7 linked regions of the Homo sapiens genome follow. The protein of the gene in region 1 purifies or fractionates together with the protein of each later gene. This does not show direct contact. Each region holds a gene or a part of one and is shown in the gene's direction. Other genes may lie near its edges. The genes, in order: GPS2, CYTH3, ACTR10, PPFIA3, PPFIA1, DAPK3 and GID4.

What was found.
Region 2: the proteins of GPS2 (region 1) and CYTH3 purify together in Homo sapiens (affinity purification with mass spectrometry; 4 studies listed by BioGRID and IntAct, with this or other methods). This does not show direct contact.
Region 3: the proteins of GPS2 (region 1) and ACTR10 purify together in Homo sapiens (affinity purification with mass spectrometry; 3 studies listed by BioGRID and IntAct, with this or other methods). This does not show direct contact.
Region 4: the proteins of GPS2 (region 1) and PPFIA3 purify together in Homo sapiens (affinity purification with mass spectrometry; 3 studies listed by BioGRID and IntAct, with this or other methods). This does not show direct contact.
Region 5: the proteins of GPS2 (region 1) and PPFIA1 purify together in Homo sapiens (affinity purification with mass spectrometry; 4 studies listed by BioGRID and IntAct, with this or other methods). This does not show direct contact.
Region 6: the proteins of GPS2 (region 1) and DAPK3 purify together in Homo sapiens (affinity purification with mass spectrometry; 4 studies listed by BioGRID and IntAct, with this or other methods). This does not show direct contact.
Region 7: the proteins of GPS2 (region 1) and GID4 purify together in Homo sapiens (affinity purification with mass spectrometry; 3 studies listed by BioGRID and IntAct, with this or other methods). This does not show direct contact.

Annotation. Positions count from the first base shown.
Region 1 is NC_000017.11:7,312,561-7,316,581, reverse strand, and holds GPS2 (G protein pathway suppressor 2), read left to right. Parts: upstream 1-1,221; 5' UTR 1,222-1,251; intron 1,252-1,462; 5' UTR 1,463-1,529; coding exon 1,530-1,623; intron 1,624-1,984; coding exon 1,985-2,094; intron 2,095-2,178; coding exon 2,179-2,291; intron 2,292-2,422; coding exon 2,423-2,502; intron 2,503-2,593; coding exon 2,594-2,676; intron 2,677-2,860; coding exon 2,861-3,014; intron 3,015-3,112; coding exon 3,113-3,202; intron 3,203-3,290; coding exon 3,291-3,370; intron 3,371-3,457; coding exon 3,458-3,553; intron 3,554-3,742; coding exon 3,743-3,826; 3' UTR 3,827-3,921; downstream 3,922-4,021. Other genes in the region: NEURL4 (neuralized-like protein 4), read left to right, coding at 255-459. UniProt on the Homo sapiens protein: Key regulator of inflammation, lipid metabolism and mitochondrion homeostasis that acts by inhibiting the activity of the ubiquitin-conjugating enzyme UBE2N/Ubc13, thereby inhibiting 'Lys-63'-linked ubiquitination.
Region 2 is NC_000007.14:6,185,625-6,189,124, reverse strand, and holds part of CYTH3 (cytohesin-3), read left to right. Parts: intron 1-1,403; coding exon 1,404-1,468; intron 1,469-2,008; coding exon 2,009-2,075; intron 2,076-3,500. UniProt on the Homo sapiens protein: Promotes guanine-nucleotide exchange on ARF1 and ARF6. Promotes the activation of ARF factors through replacement of GDP with GTP. Plays a role in the epithelial polarization.
Region 3 is NC_000014.9:58,213,649-58,217,148, forward strand, and holds part of ACTR10 (actin-related protein 10), read left to right. Parts: coding exon 1-50; intron 51-1,556; coding exon 1,557-1,636; intron 1,637-3,500. UniProt on the Homo sapiens protein: Part of the dynactin complex that activates the molecular motor dynein for ultra-processive transport along microtubules.
Region 4 is NC_000019.10:49,143,544-49,147,043, forward strand, and holds part of PPFIA3 (liprin-alpha-3), read left to right. Parts: intron 1-2,399; coding exon 2,400-2,462; intron 2,463-2,622; coding exon 2,623-2,649; intron 2,650-3,500. UniProt on the Homo sapiens protein: May regulate the disassembly of focal adhesions. May localize receptor-like tyrosine phosphatases type 2A at specific sites on the plasma membrane, possibly regulating their interaction with the extracellular environment and their association with substrates.
Region 5 is NC_000011.10:70,371,690-70,375,189, forward strand, and holds part of PPFIA1 (liprin-alpha-1), read left to right. Parts: intron 1-503; exon of another isoform or gene 504-522; coding exon of another isoform or gene 523-525; coding exon 526-701; exon of another isoform or gene 702-787; coding exon 788-885; intron 886-3,228; coding exon 3,229-3,404; intron 3,405-3,500. UniProt on the Homo sapiens protein: May regulate the disassembly of focal adhesions. May localize receptor-like tyrosine phosphatases type 2A at specific sites on the plasma membrane, possibly regulating their interaction with the extracellular environment and their association with substrates.
Region 6 is NC_000019.10:3,961,100-3,964,599, reverse strand, and holds part of DAPK3 (death-associated protein kinase 3), read left to right. Parts: intron 1-226; coding exon 227-356; intron 357-680; coding exon 681-729; intron 730-930; coding exon 931-957; intron 958-3,087; exon of another isoform or gene 3,088-3,186; intron 3,187-3,438; coding exon 3,439-3,500. UniProt on the Homo sapiens protein: Serine/threonine kinase which is involved in the regulation of apoptosis, autophagy, transcription, translation and actin cytoskeleton reorganization. Involved in the regulation of smooth muscle contraction.
Region 7 is NC_000017.11:18,042,408-18,045,907, forward strand, and holds part of GID4 (glucose-induced degradation protein 4 homolog), read left to right. Parts: intron 1-2,739; coding exon 2,740-2,799; intron 2,800-3,500.

The DNA of each region.
Region 1 (4,021 bases):
GACAGCAGTGCGGTTGGTGTGGACATCCTAAGAAGGTGGGAGAGATTCGAGCAAAGGCTTGAAGAAGGAAGTGAAGGGTGTAGCTGAGCAGGCTTTGGGAGGAAGAGCATTTCAGGTAGAACAGCTAGAGCGAAGTTCCCATAAGGTGGGAGTATTTCCTAGGTACAGCAAGGCTTGTGTGGTTGGAACAGACTTTGCAAGGGGGAGGTGATGGGGCGAGAGGCTTCACTCCCTTATTTTTTCTTGTCTGACAGATTCCGGGACCCCAAATCCCAGCGGACGCACCAGGCTCAGGTGGCGTTCCAGGTGTGTGTGCGCCCTGGCTCCTACACCCCGGGACCCCCTTCCGCTGCCCTTGGAGAACCTCCTGACCCTCACTTCAGTCCAGCCGAACTTGAGTGGGTCACTAAGGAGAAGGGGGCCACACTCCTCTGTGCCCTGCTGGTACGGGTGGAATGAGGGGTGAGACACCACTACTACAAGCACAGTCGGGCCGCGGGCCCATGGACTCTGAGTGGCGACTGCCTCCACCTCATTCCCGTGACTCGTGGCATGCGCAGGTGCTGGAGCTTGGCAGCCGCGCAGGAGCATGTAGGCAGGCTCTCAGATGTAGGTGGCAAGTGGCACAGCTCCATGTCCGGAGGCCCAGCACTCCGTCTGATGGGAGGAGTCGTGGGAGCCCAGCTCCAGGCCCTGGTACCCCTCTTCATGCACTGATTTGGGGAACATGACTCCCTTTTACTCCCCTACCCCACATCACTTAATTTATTTCCGTTTTTGTTTCTGGTTACTGTGAATCCCAGAGGAGTCTCTCCCTGTGCCCACATGAAGCTGCTTTTTCCGGGGCCACCGGGCGGGAGTGGGGAAGGGTGGGCGCACGGAAGATGGGGGCCTCTGTACAGTTGTTACTGACTCTGATTTCTAAGGAGCCAATAAACACCGTCTCAGAGCCTCCGCCTCGGCCTCTCTCTCGCGCGCCCCTCTCCGGAGCCCGCGTCCCCTGGGGTGCCACCAGGTGGGCCCGCGAAATTAAAGAGAGCTGAGGATGCCAAGGCCAGTCTGCAGCCGTCGTCGCTCACGTTCCCGGCGACGGGGTTTGTACGCCGCGGGCACCCGTCGCAGCGCGCTTCCGCCTTCTTTCACCTGTGAGGTCGGCCGCCGCCGTGACTCCGGAAGGACTCGGCCGGGCCGCCGGATGTGACGCAGGGGCCAGGGCGCGTCGGAGCCGCTGAGAAAGCGCAGAGAAGGCGGGTAGGAAGGGCAGTCGTCCGCGCTGGCTGGGCAGGGAGCGGCAGCAGCGAGCCGGGGACCCCGGCGCCGCCCGCGCGCGGTGGGACTGGGGCTGCGGTCCCGGCCGGGTGGCGGGCTCCTGGGACACGTGACCGGGGCGGCGAGCGGGCCGGGCGGACGGGCTTCCGCCTGGGCCGGGCGCGGCCCCCTCTGAGCGCCCGCCTCCCCGCAGGCCCCGTCTGAGGTCTGGCAGTCAGAGACAGCCGGGCGCCCACGGCCCGAGCGCCCACGGCAGCACCATGCCCGCACTCCTGGAGCGCCCCAAGCTTTCCAACGCCATGGCCAGGGCGCTGCACCGGCACATTATGATGGAGCGGGAGCGCAAGCGGCAGGGTGAGCCGGGGCCATAGCAGGGGGACGCACGGCCCAGAATGGCTCCTGTACCTCAAGGCTGGCCTCAACCCACCGGCCAACCAGCGCGCCCGCTGCCGAGCGCAGAGGAGGGAAGGAATAGCCCCGTTGTGGTGGGATTTAAGCGTCCTGTTCCACGCTCCAGAACCCTTGAGATGGGAAGGACCTTGGAGAGCACCTGATAAAGCCTTTCCGTTCCCTATTGCCGCGATGGGGAGCTTGTCCCCTCGAGGCAAAGAGCATACAGGCGTGTTGGGATGACTGGGTTTTGCTGGTCTTCAATCTGTAACGTTGGAATTGTTTTCACTACCCTGCCTCTTCTTCATTCTGCCTGATTCTCCAGAGGAAGAAGAGGTGGATAAGATGATGGAACAGAAGATGAAGGAAGAACAGGAGAGAAGGAAGAAAAAGGAGATGGAAGAGAGAATGTCATTAGAGGAGACCAAGGAACAAGTAAGCAGTCCCTTGAACTTTCCCAGCTTTGATTTCTTCGTTTGACTCTCCCTGCCTTCATCTTCTTTTCCCACCCCATCCCAGATTCTGAAGTTGGAGGAGAAGCTTTTGGCTCTACAGGAAGAGAAGCACCAGCTTTTCCTGCAGCTCAAGAAAGTTTTACATGAGGAAGAAAAACGGAGGCGAAAGGAACAGAGGTGGGATCAGAGTGCTAAAAACTGAAATGGGGGCCAAGTGGAACTGGGATCAGGTAGTAAAAGAACCAGTGTTTAATGGCAAAAGAGAAGGCATCTGTCCTTGACTTTGACCTGTCTTCCTTTCACTCCAGTGACCTGACCACCCTAACATCAGCTGCATACCAGCAGAGCCTGACTGTTCACACAGGAACTCATCTCCTCAGCATGCAGGGTGAGGACTAAAGAAACCACCAGATGGAACCGGCCTTCTTGGAGGTCACAGCCTCCCATTTCAGCATCATGAAGCCCTTCTCCCTTTCTAGGGAGCCCTGGAGGACACAATCGCCCAGGCACCCTCATGGCAGCTGACAGAGCCAAACAAATGTTTGGACCCCAAGTGCTTACGGTGAGAGTAGGATTGGATGCCTAGCCCCTAGTACTTCCATCCATGCATCCTTGCCACCAGTATTCAAGTCACAAACATATCAAGCACTTAAGTTTAGGGGGAAACGGGGCATACAGATACACACAAGTCACTGGGTTTCAGCTTTCAAGGAGTTTGTAGGCGAGTTCTCATTCTCCTTCCTTAGACCCGGCACTACGTGGGCTCAGCAGCTGCTTTTGCAGGGACACCAGAGCATGGACAATTCCAAGGCAGTCCTGGTGGTGCCTATGGGACTGCTCAGCCCCCACCTCACTATGGGCCCACACAGCCAGCTTATAGTCCTAGTCAGCAGCTCAGAGGTGAGTAATAGGAGGGATGGGGCTTGGCCTTCCTCAAGGTCAAAGGAGGAATGCCATTCAGTAAAAGATTTTAATGGCTCTGTCTTTTCCTTTCTCAGCTCCTTCGGCATTCCCTGCAGTGCAGTACCTATCTCAGCCACAGCCACAGCCCTATGCTGTGCATGGCCACTTTCAGCCCACTCAGACAGGTGATAACATCCCATGCAGGAGCTCTAGCTCTCAGGTCCTCCCCTCCCTGTTTCATTCTCATCTCACATGCCCCTCTTCCCCACCTAGGTTTCCTCCAGCCTGGTGGTGCCCTGTCCTTGCAAAAGCAGATGGAACATGCTAACCAGCAGACTGGCTTCTCCGACTCAGTGAGTATGGCACCTTGGGAGGTCAGGGTTAGGGATATGTTAAGGGGAGCTTCAGTATGCCTCAGGCCCTGACTCTGTTCTCTGCAGTCCTCTCTGCGCCCCATGCACCCCCAGGCTCTGCATCCAGCCCCTGGACTCCTTGCTTCCCCCCAGCTCCCTGTGCAGATGCAGCCAGCAGGAAAGGTAAGAATGGTAATAGAATTTACCTGTCAGAATCCCTACACTAGGGATCCGGAAAAGCAGGATTAGGTAGGACAGGTGGCCCACATCATCTGGTTTTTCCTTCCTCTTTGGGGGTGGTTATCAGTAGGGTATTAAGTGGAAGGGAGAGTATGCCCAGTGACAAAGCCCTCTTTTCATCACCACCACCAGTCGGGCTTTGCAGCTACCAGCCAACCTGGCCCTCGGCTCCCCTTCATCCAACACAGCCAGAACCCGCGATTCTACCACAAGTGACCATCAGATTATATCTTCAACACCACACCCCCCACCCCATCGTGGGTGAGGGTATCCCCTGTGTGTCCCAGGCCAATAAAATCTACCTGCCACTGCCCCTGGCTGCTGCTGTTTGTGTTGCCTCCCACCCAACTGTCTGGAATAGGTCAAGGTTGCTTGGAGGGTGGGGGGATGGCTGGCAGGTCCACAGCAAGT
Region 2 (3,500 bases), on another chromosome or scaffold:
GCTTCCTTGGGAAAGTCAATCAGACATGGAGGTCTTCTTTGAGAAGCTTTCTAGTCATTGTCATTGCCAAAATAAATGTGGCTTCACAGGCCACGGCAAGGACAGGCCTTGTCCCAGACAATAGCTCCTTTCTAGGAGTTTGCGTTTTAAGTCCGAGTGTCTTGGCATATAATAGGGTCCTGAATAAAAATGTCTTTGTATTTGAAAGGTAATTCATGGAAATTTTTCTTCTAAGGTTACCCTTCATTCTTGGGAAAATCAGATAACCCAGAATTGGTCTCTGGTTGAAGAATAAGGATGTATATTATTTGGACCTTAGTAATCAGCCTGCTGGATAAATGTGGAATCGTAATCTAGCTCTAACTACTTCATTTTATCAGTGAGCACACTGAGGCCCAGGGAAGTTGGAGGCTTCCAGAGGTCAGTCTCATTAGTAGGGGTCACATCAAGGGAAAGGGGGTCTGTCCCCTTGGATGCATTTGGCTTCTCTGAGTGCCCTGAGTCAGTTCTGTTCACCCCCGGGCTCTGTCCATGGTGCTTCATCTCATTCAAGGTGATACAAGTGATCCTGAGACCACTGACCTAAACACACCTGAGCTTCAGCCTGAGACCACCGATCTAAACACACCCGAGCCTCAGCTTCTCCCTGGGAACACAGGCAGTGTTGAAGGAGGAGGCAGGTGACAACTGTTTGCATGGCAGGGCTGAATAGTGCAGTTAAGCGAACTGAGGACTCATGGCTTTCCTTTTGCTGGGCTTTTTTTTTTTGTTTTTTTGTTTTTTTTAAAAAAAGAGACCAAGTCTTGCTCTGTCACCCAGACTGGAGTACAGTGGTGTGATCATGGCTCACTGCAGCCTCAAACTCGTGGGTTCATGCAGTCCTCCCTCCTCAGCCTCTCTAGTAGCTAGGACTACAGGCATGTACCACCACACTCAGCTAATTTTTCTGTTTTTCTTTTTTGTAGCAATGAGGCCTTGCTACATTGCCCAGGCTGTTCTCAAACTCCTGATCTCAAGCGATCCCTCTGCTTCAACCTCCCAAAATGCTGGGATTACAGGCATGAGCCACTGCTCCTGGCTTGGTTTTATCTTTTCACAGCTGTGATATTCCCCCCCCAGTGTGCTTGCCTGATTTTATATACAAATACCCTAGGATCTGCAGAGTGGACCCCTCTGAACCTGGTATCTGATGAAAAGTGAGCAAAGAATTTTGTGTTCTCCTAAGTTGTGGTGGCTTTGACTATGAAGCTCTAGCTGTATTGATAATAGTATTGGTTTTTCCATCCCTGTGATGCTCCGGTGAGACCGCAGGGAAGCTTGTCACAAGAGAACTAAAATTTCTGAGTCTCAGGGGAGGAAGGTTAAGACCCACTCCCCACCTCGAAATTCTTCTTTTTTGACAGAGGCTGAAATATGAAATTGCAGAGGTGATGACAGAGATCGACAATCTAACTTCCGTAGAGGAGAGGTAACAATTTGTGGCTACACCTTTAAGCTATTTACTCTTTTCTTTCTACCTCCATCCTGTAGTCAAACTTGCAGAAAGTGGGGTGAGAGTGGTTGGGATGTGGGGAGCCTGTGGAGTTGTTAATTCCTCTCCTCTCCCCCTACTCTGCGTGGAGGGGTCCAGGGGTGTTTCCCTGGATGTTACCTCCCATTGCCTCCTCTGTAAGTCATCATCTGCCTTTATAGGTTCAGGCATAAGCACAGGCACTTCAGGGTTGACCCGCACAGAAATTACCTGCCTGCGTCATAAGGAACTGTGCTTTATTAAAATCACTGGTTTGCATCATTAGCTTTTTCTGAAGTGTCTCAAGTTATCAAATGTGAACAGCAATGGTGGCTGCACCACCCCTGCCGCCACTGCGGAGACTGGGGGCCCCTCCGTGAGGGCCTGTGCTTCGCTTCCTTGAGCCCGTTGTTGCGGGGGAAAGTACACTGGAGGGCCGTGACTGGGCTGCATTGTGAAAACAGCATGAGTGATTTTTAAATTATTTCACACCAATAGCAAAACGACTCAGAGGAACAAACAGATAGCCATGGGAAGAAAGAAATTCAACATGGATCCCAAAAAGGTAAGAGAATGCTCTCCCTTTTCTGGCCTGCAGGAGATGGACTAATTGATTTGAACTGCCGTTTCCCTTTTGGACAGAGGTCAGAGGTGGTCCGCCCTGTCACCTCATAAAAGACTGGGAGTTGAAGGCACATTTTTATCAAAAAGGGGCTTTTCGCGAGTGGGGTGAAGCAGAAGTGCCTTGTAGGGCTGGTGCCCTGGGCAGAAAGGCCTTTCTTTCAGAGTGAGCTGCTGGGTGAGGAAGCAGCCTCACAGGCACGGCTTGGACGACTCAGCACAGGCCGGGCTTGGCTCCAGGCAGTGCCCTTGCTGTCGAGGCTCATATTCGCATCTTCCCGCTTGACCTGGGTCAGGGAATCACGTGACTAGGAAGGAGCAGGGGTGGGAGTGGAACCCTGGTGTCCAGAGGTTACGGACTTTATAATCTGGGTGGGTTAAGTGGTTCACATAAGAGGACTTTATTCCTCCATTCACCTTAAAAAGCAGGTGTCTGTGAAAAAACAAGGGATCCTCCACATTTAAGCCAGCATCTTTCTCTTTCCTCAAGTTGGATTTTCTAGGGAGACACTCGAAAACCGTGAAACCTGAAACATGTAGCTGCTTGTTTTTGAGACCGAGCTAAGGGATTTGGCAGAATCTGTGAAGCTTTTTGGGGGACATTTTGGTTTTGAGAAAGAAGGGTAGACCTGAGTCTTCAGGGTTGAGGAGAGGAACGGCGTGTCCACGGGAAGGTCTCGCTGCAGAGCTGGTTCACGCCACTCCTGTGGTCTTCAGTCGGTCTGCACTTTTTTTTTTTTTTTTTTTTTTGAGATAGAGTCTTGCTCTGTCACCCAGGCTGGAGTGCAGTGGCACGATCTTGGCTCACTGCAAGCTCCGCCTCCCGGGTTCACGCCATTCTCCTGCCTCAGCCTCCCGGGTAGCTGAGACTACAGGCGCCCGCCACCACGCCCGGCTAATTTTTTGTATTTTTAGTAGAGATGGGGTTTCACTGTGTTAGCCAGGATGGTCTTGATCTCCTGACCTCATGATCCGCCCGCCTCGGCCTCCCAAAGTGCTGGGATTATGTGCGTGAGCCACCGTGCCTGGCCCAGTCGGTCTGTACTTCTAACGTTCCCCTTGCTTTTCTGGCATTGAGCCTCTGTGCTAATGAGTTAATTATTTGTTCCTTCGATAAATATCTGATTGCAGAATTCCATTGTACAAGGTCTAAGATCTGTAAACTCACATAAGTGCAGGTGCAGTTGCAGGTGATATTTACAGAAGTGCATGTCGTTATTTCCTGCTCACGGTTTGCAGGTCTGGGACTGCAGGTATGCGCCACTGCACCCAGATAATTTTTTTTTTTTTTTTTGAGACAGAGTCTAACTCTGTTGCCCAGGCTGGAGTGCAGTGGTGCGATCTCGGCCCACCGCAAGCTCCACCTCCC
Region 3 (3,500 bases), on another chromosome or scaffold:
GTTCTAAATTGTTGGGGAGCACTACCCCTAGGAGGAAAAGCTCTTCACAAGTAAGTTTCTTGGAATTTAACATATTCATTTCACCTGTGCCACAAAAACAGTTGCTAATCTGTTTGTTGATCAGTGATCAATAGAGGGCTTGTGATACGGACAGTGAATTTTATTCATTCCGCCCTCTATTAGCTTCGAGTATATTCATTTTTTAAGAATAAACCAGTTTTTTAAATTTTTAATTTTTGGGGGTACATAGTAGGTGTATATATTTATGAGGTACCTGGGATGTTTTGATACAGGCATGCAATGAGAAATAAGCACATCATAGAGAATGGGGTATCCATCTCGTCAAGCATTTATCCTTTGAGTTACAAACAATCCAGTTATACTCTTTACATGATTTTAAAATGTACAATTAAGTTATTATTGTCTACAGTCACCCTGTGGTGCTATTAAATAGTAGGTCTTACTGTTTCTATTTTTTTGTACCCATTAATTATCCTCACCTCCCTTGTATCCCTCCACTATCCTCCCTGGCCTCTGGTAGCCATCTTTCTACTCTCTATGTCCATGAGTTACATTGTTTTGCTGTTTAGATCCCACAAATAACTGAGCACATATAATATTGGTCTTTCTATGCATGGCTTATTTCACTTAACATAATGATCTCCAGTTCCATCAATGTTGTTGCAAATGACTGGATCTCATTCTTTTTTATAGCTGAATAGTATTCCATTGTGTATATGTACCACATTTTTTTCTTTTTTTTTTTAACTTTTATTAAGTTTAGAGATACAAGTGCAGGTTTATTACATAGGTAAACTTATGTCATGGGGAAGACCTTTATTATTATTATTATTATTATTGAAATGGAGTCTCGCTCTGTCACCCAGGCTGGAGTGCAGAGGCATGATCTCGGCTCACCGCAACCTCCGCTGCCTGGTTTCAAGCGATTCTCCTACCTCAGCCTCCCGAGTAGCTGGGACTACAGGCGTGCGCCGCCACGCCTGGCTAATTTTGGTATTTTTAGTAGAGATAGAGTTTTGCCATGTTGGCCAGGCTGTTCTCAAACTCCTGACCTCAGGTGATCCACCCGCTTCAGCCTCCCAGAGTGCTGGGATTACAGGCGTGAGCCACCGTGCCTGGCAGGAAGATCATTTTTATTTAAATCATAATAATCGGGCTGGGTGTGGTGGCTCACACCTGTAATCCCAGCACTCTGGGAGGCCAAGGCAGATGGATCACCTGAGGTCAGGAGTTCAAGACCAGCCTGGCCAACATGGCAAAACCCTATCTCTACTAAAAATACAAAACTTAGCCGGGCATGGTGGCGGGCACCTGTAATCCCAGCTACTCGAGAGGCTGAGGCAGGAGAATCACATGAACCTAGGAGGTGAATGTTGCAGTGAACTGGGATTGCGCCACTTCACTCCAGCCTGGGCAACAGAGTAAGACTGTCTCCAAAAAAAAAATCATAATAATCTATTATGTAGTTGAAAGTATCAAATAAGGATATCAGTTTCAATATTTTCATTCCAGTAACTTTTTTTTTTTAATTTCAGAGAGTTGGAAACTCAACTATTGGAACAATGTACTGTTGACACAAGTGTTGCTAAAGAACAGAGCCTTCCCTCAGTGATGGGTAAATTCATTTTAAGTGGTTTAGGAGTGGTTTACACTCTCTTTTTGTTCTTCAACTTGTATTTTAGTCTTTGCTCCATTGCATGATTATTCTCTTTTCTCCCCATGCCACTCTGATGGTACTGCTTCAACTATAAGCTCACCATTGAACTTTTAATCACTAAATTCAATAGTTTGATTTTAGTCATCCTTTCCAGAACTTTTGACATTGTGGATCATCATGTACTCTTGAATGCTTTCTTCTCCTTGGCTTTCAGGATTCTTTTTTTTAGTGGTTGTCTATTATTTCCCCAAATATTCCTCTGGTTTCCTCTGCTCTTGCTTTCTCTACTTGTATTCGACTAGGGATCTAGTGTTTGTTCCTTCTTTTTCTCTACTGGCTTTTTAACTGTGATCTTATCTACTCCCACAACTTCTACATCTGCATGCTGTTGATTCTGAAATGTGTCACTGGGCCTGATCCTTCTTCTGAACTTGATATTCATATTTCCAACTGATTATTAGAGACTGTGCATGTCTCTAGGCACCTCAAACTTAAGATTTCCAAAAGTGAATACATTATGTCTTTCCTCAAATTCATTTCAATTATTAGATAAAGGTAATATTTTCCTTGTCTCCCGTTTTACAAAACTGGAAGTTAGCCTTTCAATTCTTCAGAAATCTCTTTCAGATCTCATTTTTCTTTCTTTCTTTTTTTTTTTTTTTTTAACCTTCCACACCATTGAACACCCGAGAGCAAAGACATTGTTTTAATCTAGGCCCTCATTTCTTAGATTATTACAGAAGTCTACTCTGGATGGATTCGGTCTGTTTCACACTGTTGCCAGGAATAACTTTCCACAAATATTTTTATGTTTTTGAGACAGGATCTCACTCTGTTGCCCAGACTGGAGGGCAGTGGCGCGATCTTGGCTCACTGCAGTCTCCACCTCCTAGGCTCAAGCCATCCTCCATTCTCAGCCTCCTGAGTAGCTGGGACTACAGGCGCAAGCCACCACACCCAGCTAATTTTTGGGGGGTACATTTTGTAGAGATGGGGTTTTGCCATGTCGCCTAGGCTGGTCTCGAACTCCTGAGCTCAAGCAATCCACCAGCCCCCGCCTCCCAAAATGCTGGGATTACAGCCTGAGCCACTGTGCCCAGCCAATTTTTCACAAAATAAATATAAATACATTGCTCTTTTGCTTGAGAATTTTTGTAAGCTCCTACAGGTTAAAATCCAAATTATCTGTTGGATATAAATGTTTCTTCAAAATCTGAGTTTGTTCTACCTCTTATCCTTAGGTCACTAAACTTTATCCTTTGCTCCTTATTAAAGCTACAGTAAATTTCTTACAGTTGTCGAGGCACCGTGAGTCCTAGCACAGCCCTGTGCCTTCATTTATTCTTTTTCTTTCCCTGGGATGTTTTTCTTTGCCTAGTTTGGTTTTTGATCCCTCTGCATGACTCAGCTGGAATGTCATCTTAATGGTGAAGCCTTCCTCATCTTCCCTAAGCAGAATAAATTGCTCCTCTCTGTTAAGCCCTTGGCAGTAATTTATTATAGCACATATGACACATTCTCATTTGCCTCTTAACTCACTTGTTTCCCCCAGGAGACTTTGAGGATCCCTGTCTTATTTATTTTTCAATCTGCAGCACCTAGTATAGTGCTAGGGCATTGAATATATGTTGGAAAGCGAGATTTTTGCGACACTTAGGCATACCTATGTTTTCCTGTTGTTCCCTATTGATAGTTAAGTTAATAGCATTTTTCATTCTGTAGATCCAATTATAGCTTTCAAATTCCAGATAACTTTGTGATGTCTTAGTATATTTTGGTGACAGGTAATTTATAAAAGGTCTTCAAAGATAATAAATTCAGT
Region 4 (3,500 bases), on another chromosome or scaffold:
TGTATTTTTAGTAGAGACAGGGTTTTGACACGTTGGCCAGACTGGTCTTGAACTCCCGACCTCAGGTGATCCGCCCGCCTCGGCCTCCCAAAGTGTTGAGATTACAGGCGTGAGCCCCTACGCCTGGCCCTCGTTCCAACTTTTGATTACGAGACATTTCAAACATACAGAAAATCATGTGTACCCAGTTCAGCGATTCTCAAACTTTTGCTGTACTTGCTCTGTTGTGTGTGTGGGGTGGAGGCGGGGAGTGGGGAGTACAGGTTGAGTGTCCCTTACTTGAAATACGTGGGACCAGAAGTGTTTAGAATTTCTGATTTTAAAAAGTTTTTTTTGAATATTTGCATATAAATGAAATATCTTGGGGATGGGAGCCAAGCCTAAACATGAAATTCATTTATGTTTCATATGCATCTCATACACATGCCTAAAAAGAATTTTATACAATATTTTATTTTTTATTTTTATTTTATTTTTTCGAGATGGGAGTCTTGCTTTGTCGCCAAGGCTGGAGTGCAATGGTGCGACCTCGACTCACTGCAACCTCTGCCTCCTGGGTGCAAGCAATTCCAATCCTCTGCCTCAACCTTCCGAGTAGCTGGGATTATAGGCGCCCACCACCACGCCCTGCTAATTTTTGTATTCTTAGTAGAGATGGGGTTTCACCATCTTGGCCAGGCTGGTCTTGAACTCCTGACCTCGTGATCCACCTGCCTCAGCCTCCCAAAGTGCTGGGATTACAGGCGTGAGCCACCGTGCCCGGCCTACAATATTTTAAATAGCTTTGTGCATGAAACAAAGTTTTGACTGCATTTTGTTTGTGACTTGTCACATGAGGTCAGGTGGGGGATTTTCCTCTTGTGGCTTCGTGTCAGCACGTAAGTTTAGGGCCAAGCACTGTGGCTCACACCTGTAATTCCAGCATTTTGGGAGGCTTTGGATGGCCGATCTCTTGAACCCGGGAGTTCGAGACCAGCCTGGGCAACATGGCAAAACCCCATCTCTACTAAAAATACAAAAATTAGTCGGGTGTGGTGGCGTATACCTGTAGTCCTAGCTACTCAGGAGGCTGAGGTGGGAGGATCCTTTGAGCCCAGGAGGTCGAGGCTGCAGTGAGCTGTGATTGTCCCACTGTACTGCAGCCTGGGTGACAGAGAAAGAGTGCATCCAAAAAAAAAAAAGTTTAGAATTTTGGAGCATTTTGGATTTTGGATTTTCAGGTTGGGGATGCTCAGAGACCTGTACTTGAATGTAATTGGAGAAAGTCATAACATCTTAGCCCCCAAAATTACTTTAGTGGGTCTTTTTCTTCCTTGTAAACACCACATCCTTTATCACACCTAAGGGCATTCACATTGTTGTTAATTTCTTTTTCTTTTCTTTTCTTTCTTTTTTTTTTTTTTTTGAGATGGAGTTTCACTCTGTCGCCCAGGCTGGAGTGCAGTGGTGCGATCTTGGCTCACTGCAACCTCCGTCTCCCTGGTTCAAGTGATTCTCCTGCCTCAGCCTCCTGAGTAGCTGGGATTAAAGGCACACGCCACCATGCCCAGCTAATTTTTGTATTTTTAGTAGAGATAGGGTTTCACCAACGTTGGCCAGGCTGGTCTTGAACTCCTGACCTCAGGTGATCCACCCGCCTCTGCCTCCCGAAGTGCTAGACCACTCTCAGCCTAATTTTTGTATTTTTAGTAGAGATGGGGTTTCTCCAGGTTGGCCAGGCTAGTCTTCAATCTCCAAAAGTGATGTGCCCGCCTCAGCCTCCCAAAGTGCTGGCACTACAGGTGTGAGCCACCACGCCTGGCCACAGTTGTTAATTTCATTTACTATTCACTCTGTATTCAAATTTCCCCAACATACTTAAAATATGTTCATTGTTTCTCCCCCACTAGGACGAAAAGTGTCTGTCGTGTCCCTTGCCATATCCCACACCCTATGACGGTGACTGGTGCCTGACACTCACCAGAAGTACATAAATGTTTTTATCCTTGTATGGATTCCTAACTCGTGAGGTTGTTGGGAGCAGAAGCTCAATAAATGTGAACCCCCCCCGCCATACTCCCTAAACATTTGCACCATGGCTGTGTCTGTCCCCCACTTCTGAATCCTCATTCTGTACCTCTGTGTGAGGTCAGCGAGGTGACGTCATTTGCACAGGGCCACACAGCAAAATGCATGGCAGGGTCCCAATTCCAACCTGAATTTGTTCAACTCCAAAGTCACATTGCCTGGTACATGGCAGGTGCCCTATAATAAGAATCATTCCTTTTCTCTGTTACTGCTTGCCCCAGAAAGCAGGAGGGACATAAACGTGTGGCCCAGGGCCTTCAGGAGGACACCCTCCTTCCTCTCCCCCACGCGAAGCCCTCTCCCACCATCCATTAACACTCCCTGCCCCTCAGTCCACAGGAAACGTGTGGATGACACACGAGGAGATGGAGTCCCTTACGGCCACGACCAAGCCCGTGAGTGCCCCCTGCCGGCCGCCTTGGGGGTGGCACTAACCTTCTTTGGGGGTGGGGGCGGGGACCGAGTCTGTGGCCATCCCTAAGTCCGCTCCTTGCGTCCTCCTCTGCCTGCCCCTTAACTCACCCCTTCTCTCCCCTCTTCCTACTAACGGGTCAGGAGACCAAGGAGATCAGCTGGGAGCAGGTAGGGGGCGCGGGGCGGGGCGTGAGCGCATGAACAGGCTGTGCACGACGCATGGATGCCCCTCCTCCGAGCCCTGCCCCTGCCTTCACCAGAACATGCCATCATCCCCATGGGGGGGCGCTGCGCCAAGCTTGGCTCTGGACTGTTCCATTATGGCTTGGCGGTGGGGAGGGTAGAGGGGATGCGATGTGGAAGCCCAGACTGTTGCATAGTCAGCCTTATGCATGGACCATTTCATCATCGTGGGTTGTGGGGGCTCTAAGGGGCTTCAATTCTGTAGCTCAGGAGAGACTGAGCAGCCGGTGTCCCTATAGTGGAGGGGGCGGGGGCTACAGTGGACTGCTCAGTGTACCAGGGCCAAGGAGGACACACTGGCTGTGGTGGTGGTGAGGCAGCCAGGCTGAATGAGAAGTTGGGGAGGAGGAGCTACACTTTGTTCTCAAGAAACAAGAGGCGGCCGGGCGCAGTGGCTCACGCCTGTAATTCCAGCACTTTAGGAGGCTGAGGTGGGCAGATCACCTGAGGTCAGGAGTTTGAGACCAGTCTGGCCAACATGGTGAAACCCTGTGTCTACTAAAAATACAAAAATTAGCCGGGTGCAGTGGCTAGCGTATGTAATCCCAGCTACTTGGGAGGCTGAGGCAGGAGAATCGCTTGAACCCAGGAGGTAGAGGTTGCACTGAGCCGAGATTGCACCATTGTACTCCAGCCTGGGTGATAGAGCCAGATTCCATCTCATAAAAACCAAACAAATAAACTAACAAAAAAACCCAAGAGGCATGAACTCACTGTCCACGGAGGAATTATGTTTGACTGTGGTCATAGATCACATATTTCCAGCCAGGGGGAGG
Region 5 (3,500 bases), on another chromosome or scaffold:
TATAATTGTGAATTTGCCTGTTTCCCCATTTAGTCCTGTTGGTTGTTGCTTTATCTCTTCTCTAAAACTATATTTTAACTGACTTTTACTGATTTTGAAATGGATTTTTTCTTTAGGAAAACAAAGTGTTAAAATGTAAACCAACCAGAGATAATTTTAGTGAGCAGTGTTGAATTGAGCCTTCAAACTTGTTCATGAGTCGTGATCAATCTTTGTCACATTATTATACTAAAAACTATCTCAGAGAGGAAATTTATAGCCAGTTACAGTTTTTTTGTAGTTTGATTTAAAAGTTAAATTTATCACAACGAATCATATATTTTTCATGTTACTATTCCTGTTGTATAAAAATTTTACTAACAAATTTAAAAGGTGAGAAGAGATCAAATTATTTTGCAATTATAAAATTATCATTAGTTTAGCCTTTGAGAATATAGGTAATAGATTAAAAATTCATTTTAAAAATGATATAAACTACTTTTGAGACTTCCTCTGTAACTGACCTTTTCCATTTATGAAAAGCAGACACTCGCCTATGGGGACATGAACCACGAGTGGATCGGCAACGAGTGGCTCCCCAGCCTGGGCCTCCCCCAGTACCGCAGCTACTTCATGGAGTGCCTTGTAGACGCCAGGATGCTGGACCACTTGACCAAGAAAGACCTTCGAGGGCAGCTGAAAATGGTCGACAGTTTTCACAGGTAACTTAATGGAGATAGTTCTTAATAATTGGCTAAGATTTTTCACTGTTACCATCTCTAAATCATCTCTCTTTTCTTCCAAATAGAAACAGTTTCCAGTGTGGAATTATGTGCCTGAGAAGGTTAAATTATGACCGGAAAGAACTGGAAAGAAAAAGAGAAGAAAGTCAGAGTGAAATAAAAGGTTAGTACATGACATTTAATTGATTCGGTTTACTCCTACTTGCTGGTGTGTTTGGAGCCTCAGTGACTTCCTATTTTTCAAAAAATCAAGAAAGGCTAAATTTAAGTGGAGAAAACTAACTAGTCTAGTGTCATTGCAGAGGAGGGCTGGATGAAGTTGAGTGCTTTTGAGATTCTCTTCCACAGCTAGAGAACTGTTCCCTGTGTTCTCACACATCAGTCTGGAGGTTAAATGTCTCCGGCTAGTCGTTTCCTGTGAGTTGAGAGTTTTCCTTTGGTCATGCCCTGTGTACTCCTTCACTCCGAAATGCTGTTCCACACTGTTAGATAACAACAGAGCAAAGCTCACTTGATGATTCAAGTGTGAGAAATATGACTGGGGGCTTATCCAAGGGGTTCAGGAGAACAGGAGAGCACCGTGCAGTTCTGCTCCCGGAGGGGAAGGAGAGGCAGCGTCTGCATTTCAGCTGGTCCTTGAAGAAGGAGGAGGAGCTGCTTAGGGTAAGGAAAAGGCATTTCAGTTGGAAAACACAGGCCAGGGAGGCGTTAGAGGATGTGAGACATTCATCCAGAAGACGTGGAGTTGGTTCTCTTCTCCGTTGGGGAGTCCCTCACTCGTACTCAAATTTATTTGTTTGTTTGTTTATTTATTTATTTAATTTATTTTGAGACAGGGTCTTGCTCTGTAGCCCAGGCTAGGCTGGAGTGCAGTGGTGTGATCACAGCTCACTACAGCCTTGAACTCCTGGGCTCAAGTGCTCTTCCTGCCTTAGCCTCCCTAGTAGCTCCTGGGAGTACAGGTGTGCTCCACCATGCCTGGAATTTTTTTTTTTTTTGTAGAGACAGGGTCTCGCTATGTTGCCTAGGCTGATCTCGAACTTTTGGGCTCAGGGGATCCTCCCACCTTGGCCTTCCAAAGTGTTGGGATTACAGGTGTGAGCCACCACACCCAGTCAGAATTTGCTTTTAAAATTAGACAGTAAACATTAAGCTCAGAGTAATGACTCCCAGAATTCCTGGAATGCAAGGAAGTCACCAATAACAATAATGATAAGAAGAGGCCAGTCTTACTAACAGTGAGTAGGTGCCAGGTGGTGTTCTAAGTACTCAGGGGTTGCTTTCTTTCATCTTTACCTTAGCCCTGTCAGTCTAAGTGCTGTTTTCATCCCCACTTTATACTAAGAAAGAAACTAAGGATAAAAATATGGTTGGGAGATGGCCCAGTTGAAGGGAAGTCTACTTGTGATTGAGTTAATGTGAATCAGGAGAAAAGTCGTAAGTCGACATTTATACAGTGTGTGTATATGTATGGACTTTTATCCAGAAAAGGGCATTGGCAATGAAATATGTCCATCTGTTTTGTTTTCTGTATCTATTTTACATCTTTTTCCAATAGACAAAGATCTTTGGAAGTGTCTTTGGAAGTGATTGGTGATCATCTGCATATATTTTTAGAGTGGCTATTTTTAGATCTAATAGAGCAAATTGAATAATTTGTTAATTTGCATAAGATATTGTGGCTGGGCATGGTAGCTCATGCCTGTAATCTCAGCACTTTGGGAGGCCAAGGCAGGAGTATTGTCTGAGCCCATGAGTTCAAGACCAGCCTGGGGAACATAGTGAGACCCTGTCAGTACAAAAAAATTAGCTGAGCTTCGTGACACACGCCTGTAGTTCCAGCTCCTCAGGAGGCTGAGGTGGGAAAAATCACTTGAGCCCAGGAGGTTGAGGCTGCAGTGAGCTATGATGGTACCAGGCTGTATCCAGCCTGGGTGACAGAGCAGGACATTGTCAAGAAAAAGAGAGGAAAAAAAAAGATTTTCTGCAAAGTCTCTAATGTGCTGGATGATATTGTTAAGTTTCTCTCATTTTAAAATGAGACAAAGACTTCGAGATTAGAAATGAGAGGTTTCTGTTGAATTGAGCAAAGTGTTCATATTATTATGGAGCCAGCTCCATCCGTGATGAAGTATTTCAGAAGACTCTCCAGTCTGTGTGTGAAGCATGTTTATACATGTTAGGTATTCAAGTTCTTGCAGTCCTCTGGCTTCTGATCCCTGGATCCTCATCATCTTCTTTTCTCTAGAAATAATAACTTCATTCCTCTCGTGCTCACTGGAAGGATGAGTTCTAATGGGAGAGTCTCCCTGAGAGTGGAGCAGGGCCAGGACACCATTGTCTCAGTGCAGCAAATGGTTGTCTATTTAGCAGTGTCTCCCAGCACTTTTCTCAGGAGCCGAAGGATTAGGAACCATGGTAGGAATCTTTCTCCTGCATTACAGGGTACATGTGATAAAGATGGCTTTCTGAAGCCACTTTTATAATTGTCTTTATTCTTTTGCAGACGTGCTTGTTTGGAGCAATGATCGAGTGATTCGCTGGATCCTGTCAATTGGCCTTAAAGAATATGCAAACAATCTTATAGAGAGTGGTGTTCACGGAGCACTTCTGGCCTTAGATGAAACCTTCGACTTCAGTGCACTGGCACTGCTGTTACAGATCCCGACGCAGAACACACAGGTGACGCCAAACCTGTCTGTGTCTGCACTCATTGTTCAGTTGGCACCCTGATTATAGACAGCTAGTTATTCGAATAGAAAGAAACTTTAAAAAAAA
Region 6 (3,500 bases), on another chromosome or scaffold:
TGGCCAGTGTGGGGGTGGGGATGGGGCGGGGAAGAGCCTGGAAGGCACCTCCTGCGCGTGGGGGTGAGGTGTGGGGAGCGTGGGGGTGAGGTTTGGGGAGCGTGGGGGTGAGGTTGGGGGAGCGTGGGGGTGAGGTTGCGGGGAGCGTGAGGGTGAGGTTTGGGGAGCGTGGGGGTGAGGGTGGGGGAGGCCCGTGCTTTCCCTGCTGAGCCTCCTCCCACCCCAGCCGGAAAACATCATGCTGCTGGACAAGAACGTGCCCAACCCACGAATCAAGCTCATCGACTTCGGCATCGCGCACAAGATCGAGGCGGGGAACGAGTTCAAGAACATCTTCGGCACCCCGGAGTTTGTGGGTGAGGCCCTGCCCAGTGGGCAGCCCCGGCCTGGGGAGGGTGGTCTGGGGCTGCCTGCTGTGCGTGGGGTGGGTCATGCCCGGTGCTGGGTGCCGCGTCCTCGGCCCTGAAGCCACCCCTCTTGGGCCCGGCTTTGCGGGAGGTCTGGGCCTCCATTTGGTGCAGCCCCGCTGTCCTACCCGTCAGGCCCTGAGGGCCAGCTCTGCCGCATTCATGCCCCCAAGGGCTGCGACATGTGAGAACCTTGACCCCATGCCTGTGTCTTGAGCCTCTTCCTTGGCCAGCATGTCCCCAGTGCCTGACCCACATCTCCCTGTTCTGCAGCCCCAGAGATTGTGAACTATGAGCCGCTGGGCCTGGAGGCGGACATGTGGTGAGTGTACCACCTGCTCCCACCGGGCCTCCCTGCATTCCTGGAGCGCAGGCCAGTGCTGCAGCTGGGGATGAAGCGGGGCCTTGCTGCTGTTGGGGTATGGGGGGACCGTTGCCCTAGAACAGGGGCGCTGGACGCCACGGTCCTGGGAGGGTGGGCGGCCCCACGCTGCGCTGACCCTTGCCTCTTGTCTGTCCCCAGGAGCATCGGTGTCATCACCTATATCCTGTGAGTACCTGGCGGGGGCCCCCTCGGCTGTGCAACACAGCTGGCATGGGTCCCCGGCTCCGTGTGTCTCATGTGGACGCCAGGGGTCCCCAGCCTGGCTGTGACCCATCGCGGGTACTCAGGGGATACCGGGTGAACGGATGAGTGATTCTCTGTGGCTGCTGTCACAGAGGCTTCTGGAGAGTTCTGAAGGCAGGACACTCACAGAGCGGCTGAGCAGGCTCCGGGTTGGGGGTCGTGTGTGCTCCTGTCCCTCTGGCTGCTAGGGAGCCCAGCCTCCTCTCGAAGTGCAAGGAAGGGGTCCGACCCCACGCTGGGTTTTGGCTCCTGTCCCTGGGCCACACGTGGGCCTGCTGTTGTTTATTATTTTTATTTGTTGAGACGGGGTCTTACTCTCTTGCCCAGGCTGGAGTGCTGTCCTAGCTCACTGCAGCCTCCACCTCCCAGACTTAAGCAATCCTCCCACCTCAGCCTCCTGAGTACCTGGGACTACATGTGCACACAACCATGCTCCCATGCTCGGACTTTTTTTTTTTTTTGATGGAGTTTTGCTCTTGTTGTCCAGGTTGGAGTGCAGTGGTGCGATCTCAGCTGCTCACTGCAACCCCCACCTCCCAGGTTCAAGCGATTCTCCTGCCTCAGTCTCCTGAGTAGCTGGGATTACAGGCGCCCACCACCATGCCCAGCTAATTTTTGTATTTTTAGAAGAGACGGGGTTTCACCATGTTGATCAAGGCTGGTTTTGAACTCCTGACCTCAGGTGATCTGCCTGCCTCGGCTTCCCAAAGTGCTGGGATTACAGGCGTGGGCCGCTGCACCCAGCTGGCTAATTTTTTTTTTTTTTTTTTTTTTTTTGAGACAGAGTTTCGCTCTTGTTGCCCAGGCTGGATGAAGTGCCAAGGCCCCGTCTCAGCTCAGGCTTACTGCAACCTCTGCCTCCCGGGTTCAAGTGATTCCCATGCCTCAGCCTCCCAAGTAGCTGGGATTACAGGTGCCTGCCACCATGCCTGGCTAATTATTTGTATTTTTAGTAGAGACGATGTTTCACCATTTCGGTCAGGCTGGTCTTGAACTCCAGACCTCAAGTGATCCGGCCGCCTTGGCCTCCCAGAATGCTGGGATGACAGGTGTGAGCCACCGTGCCCAGCTGGCTAATTTTTAAAAGTTTTTGTAGAGGTGGAGTTTCACTGTGTTGCCCAGCCATATTGAATGGGCATAGCTCATTCAGTAAGCAAGGAAATAAACAATGGCGTGGGCCCAGCCCGCTGTAGTGCGTGAGCGGACCCAAAGGCTTCAGGAGATGGGCTAGACCGTTTGTATTCTTTTTAAATGTTCAGATAATTCAGACTTACAAAGGAGCAACAGAAACAGCACAGACGCCCCCTGCAGCTTCCTCCTCCTTCAGTTTACATTTTTCATGAACACGAACGTTATGAACACCAAGACGTTAGCCTTGGTGCTACGCTAATCACAAAAGTGCTAGATGGGCCGGGTGCGATGGCTCACGCCTGTAATCTCAGCACTTTGGGAGGCTGAGGAGGGCAGATCACGAGGTCAGGGCATTGAGACCATCCTGGCTAACACGATGAAACCATGTCTCTACTAAAAATACAAAAATTAGCTGGGTGTGGCAGCGGGTGCCTGTAGTCCCAGCTACTCAGGAGGCTGAGGCAGGAGAATGGCATGAACCCAGGAGATGGAGTTTGCAGTGAGCCGAGATCGCGCTACTGCACTCCAGCCTGGGTGACAGAGCGAGACTCCGTCTCTAAAAAATTTAAAAAATTTAAAGTGCCAGAGGTGGTTAGACACCCCCGTTTTCCACTCCTGTCCTCTCTGAGGTCCCCACACGGCATTTAGCCATTCAGCTCCTTCGCCGCCTCCAGTCTGAGGCTGTTCCTCTGTCTGGCTTTCATGACCTTGACCCTGACTTGTGCTCACGGGTCAGGTGTTTTGCAGAAGGCGTCTGAGTCCACGTTTAGTCTCGTGCGCTGTCACGATCAGACGATCAGACGGGGCTTCAGTGTCTCTGCTCAAAACCCCAGGGATGATGCTGTGTCACCCTCCCAGCGTCAGGCTGGGAGGCAGACGCTGTTGGGGCCTCTCACTGCCGGGCTGTTGACCTTGATCCTTTGGCTAAGGTGTTGGCTCGGGCTCCCCACTGCAGTTACCCTCCCCTCGGCGTTACTGAGCACTGGGGGCTTTCGGGCTCTGCGTCTGCACAGATACTTCGAGTCTCCAAGGAGACTTCTGCCTGTTCATTTCTGCTGCTGTCAGTGGCGGGGTGGGGGGGTGGATTTTGAATGCCTCTTGGGTGGTGTCTGGGATCGTTGCAGGAAGGTTCTAAGGGCTCAGGAGTGTGAGTGGCCCAGGCACCTGCCGTCAGCCTGTCTTCTGTGCTCCGCCTGTCGTGGGCAGCCGGAGAGGCGGCGCGGCCGTGGTGGGAGCCCAGGACCCCACTGAGCCCCCACGCCTGTCTCGCAGCCTGAGCGGTGCATCCCCGTTCCTGGGCGAGACCAAGCAGGAGACGCTCACCAACATCTCAG
Region 7 (3,500 bases), about 11 Mb from region 1:
TTTTGAGATTGGCTTCCTTCACTTAGCATAATGTCCTCAAGGTTCATCCATATGGTAATATGTATCAGCACTTATATTCCTTTTTATTTTGCATTGTTCATTGTAACAATTGTCCATTGAATGGATATACAACATTTTGTTTATACAGTGATCAGTTGATGGACATTTGGGTTGTTTCCACTTCTGGCTACTATGAATAATACTGCTATGAACATTTATGTACAAGTTTTTATGTGGATGTATATTTCACTTTGGTAGATAACTACCTGGGAGTGCAATTGCTGGGTCACATGGTAACTGGGTTTTAACATTTTGAGAAACTGGCCCTGCATTGTTTTACATTTCCACCAGCAGTGGGTGAGGGTTCCAGTTTCTCCACATCCCCGCCAACACTCACTGTTCATCTTTTTTGTTGTAGCCATCCTAGTGTTTTTGAAGTGGTCTCTCACTGTAGTCTTGATTTGAATTTCTATAATGACTGTGCTGTTGTGCATCTTTTCTTGTGTTTTTGTTGTTGTTGTTGTTTTGGAGTACTTTCTTTTCTGTGATTCTAGTGTAAAGAGTTCCTCAAACCTTTGTGAGTTTCTGACTGGGTCTCCTCTCCACCCCGCACTTACTGTGACTCCTCTTTCCTCCTCTGCCATCTAAGAAGCCAGCAGTAGAAGGGAGCCCTGGTCGCTGTGAAAGGAATATTTAAAAGAACAGCCGTTGGACACAGCTGTGCTGTGACACCTTCTTGCTAAACACGTGCCCTGTTATCTTTCTTGAGATGCTCGCCTGCCGTTTGGTAAAAGCTGTATGCGTTGTGGTGTATTTGAGTTCACCAACCATTATCAAGATCAATTTGGGCAGAGTAGAGAGACGCTTGGTTGAATGGAGGCCAAGCTGAAATTCTGATTCTTGAGCATGTGATAATCCATGCAAAATGTTAGCCAATTTACATTTCAATTTTTAATCTTATTAGCAAGTATCCTTGCCACCTGATACACTTTTCAGCAGCTGTGAAACTCCAAACTATATTGAATTCAATGAGAATTGCATACATGAAATTTAAAGACTCAGGTTAGAATTATGTGTCCTTTAATAAAAGTTCTTTGCTGAACCATGTTAGCGTGGATTAGCTGTTTTAGATAATGTCCAGTGCCAAGGTCAGCAGATGAGGATATTTAAAATGCTTTGGCAGTTTTCACAGGGAATACCTTTGTCACCAGCACCAAACTGTGAAGGCACTTTGGCTTCATTGAAGTTCATTTGCTTTGGTGCTGACATCATCTGGTTGACTAAGTTCATTACAGTTTTTAAGCATGGCTTAGTATTTGATTTATGGTATAATTGGAAGTAATCAGGTTCACAAATCTGATAAATGCCACAAAACTATTCTAATTTCTTGAAATAAGACCTCACTTAACATTAAAATCTCAGTGTACCACAGGTACCCTTGTACTTGGTTTGCTTTAATTCAAGGATTTACCTTGTAAGTGAATCCAATTGTCATGAAATCTGAAACTCCCTATTCAGAATGAGTCTGTATAGATTTGGGTGAAATCTCACATCAGGAGGATTTTTGAGGTGACGTGGCTTCAGGTTGGTTAATTCAGAGGCCTACGATGGGCCCAGTTTTTTCCATCTTTCTAACTACCATCCTCAGCATTTCCTGGCCTGTTTCTCCCCTGTGGTCTAGATGTCTCCCCCAGGACTGGACACTCCATGCGGATACTGTCACCACTAGGGGACAAAAAAGCCATTTCTTCCTCATGCGCCTCTTCAAAAGCCAGGGATTTTTCACAGATGCACTCAGGAGACTTACACATCTGATGAGCCAGAAATGGGTCACTCACCCCTAAATACATGACTTGCAAGGGGATAGGGACACCTGTGTGCCTTAGATCCATCAGGTTGACCAAGTCTTACGTGGTAGGTAGGTACCAGAGCAAAAACTGGACCCTGCCAGCGTGAAAAAGGAGGAAATTGTTTGTTGGGTAGGCATCCGGCAGTGTCTCAGCAACCAGTAATTGGTGACTGCTAAACCTCAAAGTCTACTATGCCTGTTATTTCTATTTATTTTAGGCTCCTGACTCTTTTCATTAAGAAACACAGCATCCATATATAAAATGCACAGAGTGAACATTCACAATATAGTCAGACTTTTGGTTGGCATTTTGGTTCATAACTGAAGTTTATACCACATAAATCTTTATAAGATGCCATTTCTGAACAGTCTGCCCATTTCATAAAGAGATAATGCAGGATGATGTTTAGTGTAAAAACTAGAAGAGGAGCAGACCTCCTAGACCAATGATTGAGCAATACAGAAATAGAAAAAGGCTTGAAAGACATTAGAAAGAAAGTCAAGCCTGAGGTTAGGGATGACACCACGTGTACAGGCAGAGACAGAGGCCCTGTGCCCAGCAATGCTCAAGGTCTCTAGATGACCGGGAGACGTGTGTTGAAGATAGTACAGAAAATGAATTTGAGTGGGCACCCCATTTCAGAAAGACACTTCAGTCTCATGATATTCAGCTGAAGAAAGTTGAGAGGGTCTTGGGATCAGTTTGCTTTGGCAGAACAGGCATGTGTGTGGGGAGAACTTATCAAGATTCCAGAGACTGGGTGAGCCTTGGACTGCCCTGGGTGTTCACTGACCACCAGTCTGGCCTCACAGGATTTGCAGAGTACCCTCCTGCATGTCCCCTAGTAAGTTTATCTATTTGTGACAGGCTGTGTATCCTTTCTTTTCAGCACGTGGACACGGGGAACTCTTACCTTTGTGGGTACTTGAAGATTAAAGGCCTTACTGAGGTAAGCACTTGCTCACACAAACCAGCACTAGAAAGTCTGTGGTGTGCTCCACAGGCTCATTGGGGTTCAGGGCAGGCGGTCTCAACTCCTTGAGGCCTAATTAAAGCAGACTACTCCTGAGCATTGCTACTGTATAGGGAACATAAAACAGGCAGTTTCAGTGTGTCCTGTTGAGAAGTGTACAGATTCACAAATGTTTTAAAGAAAAGTTTATAAGTACATCATAATTGTCACAACCAACACTATTGATTTTATTTTTAATCCTTTTTGGGGGAAAAAATAATAAGAATATAGCTGCCACCCTCATCATAAGTTTAACAGTTTCTGAGATAAGCATCAGTCCTATAAAAAATGAGCTTTTAAGTTCTTTAAGCCTCTTAGTTAATTGGAACAATGAAAAGTTACTGACTGGTCGCGGTGGCTCATGCCTGTAATCGCAACACTTTGGGAGCCTGAGGTGTGCAGATCACTTGAGGTAGGGAGACCAGCCTGGCCAACATGGTGAAACCCCATCTCTACTAAACATAAAAAAAAAAAATTAGCCGGGCATGGTGGCACAGACCTGTAGTTCCAGGTACTTGGGAGTCTGAGGCACAGAGAATCACTTGAACCAGAGAGGCAGAGGTTGCAGTGAGCCAAGATCACCATGCACTCCAACCTGGGCAACAGAGCAAGACCCTGTCTCAAAAAAAAAAAAAAAG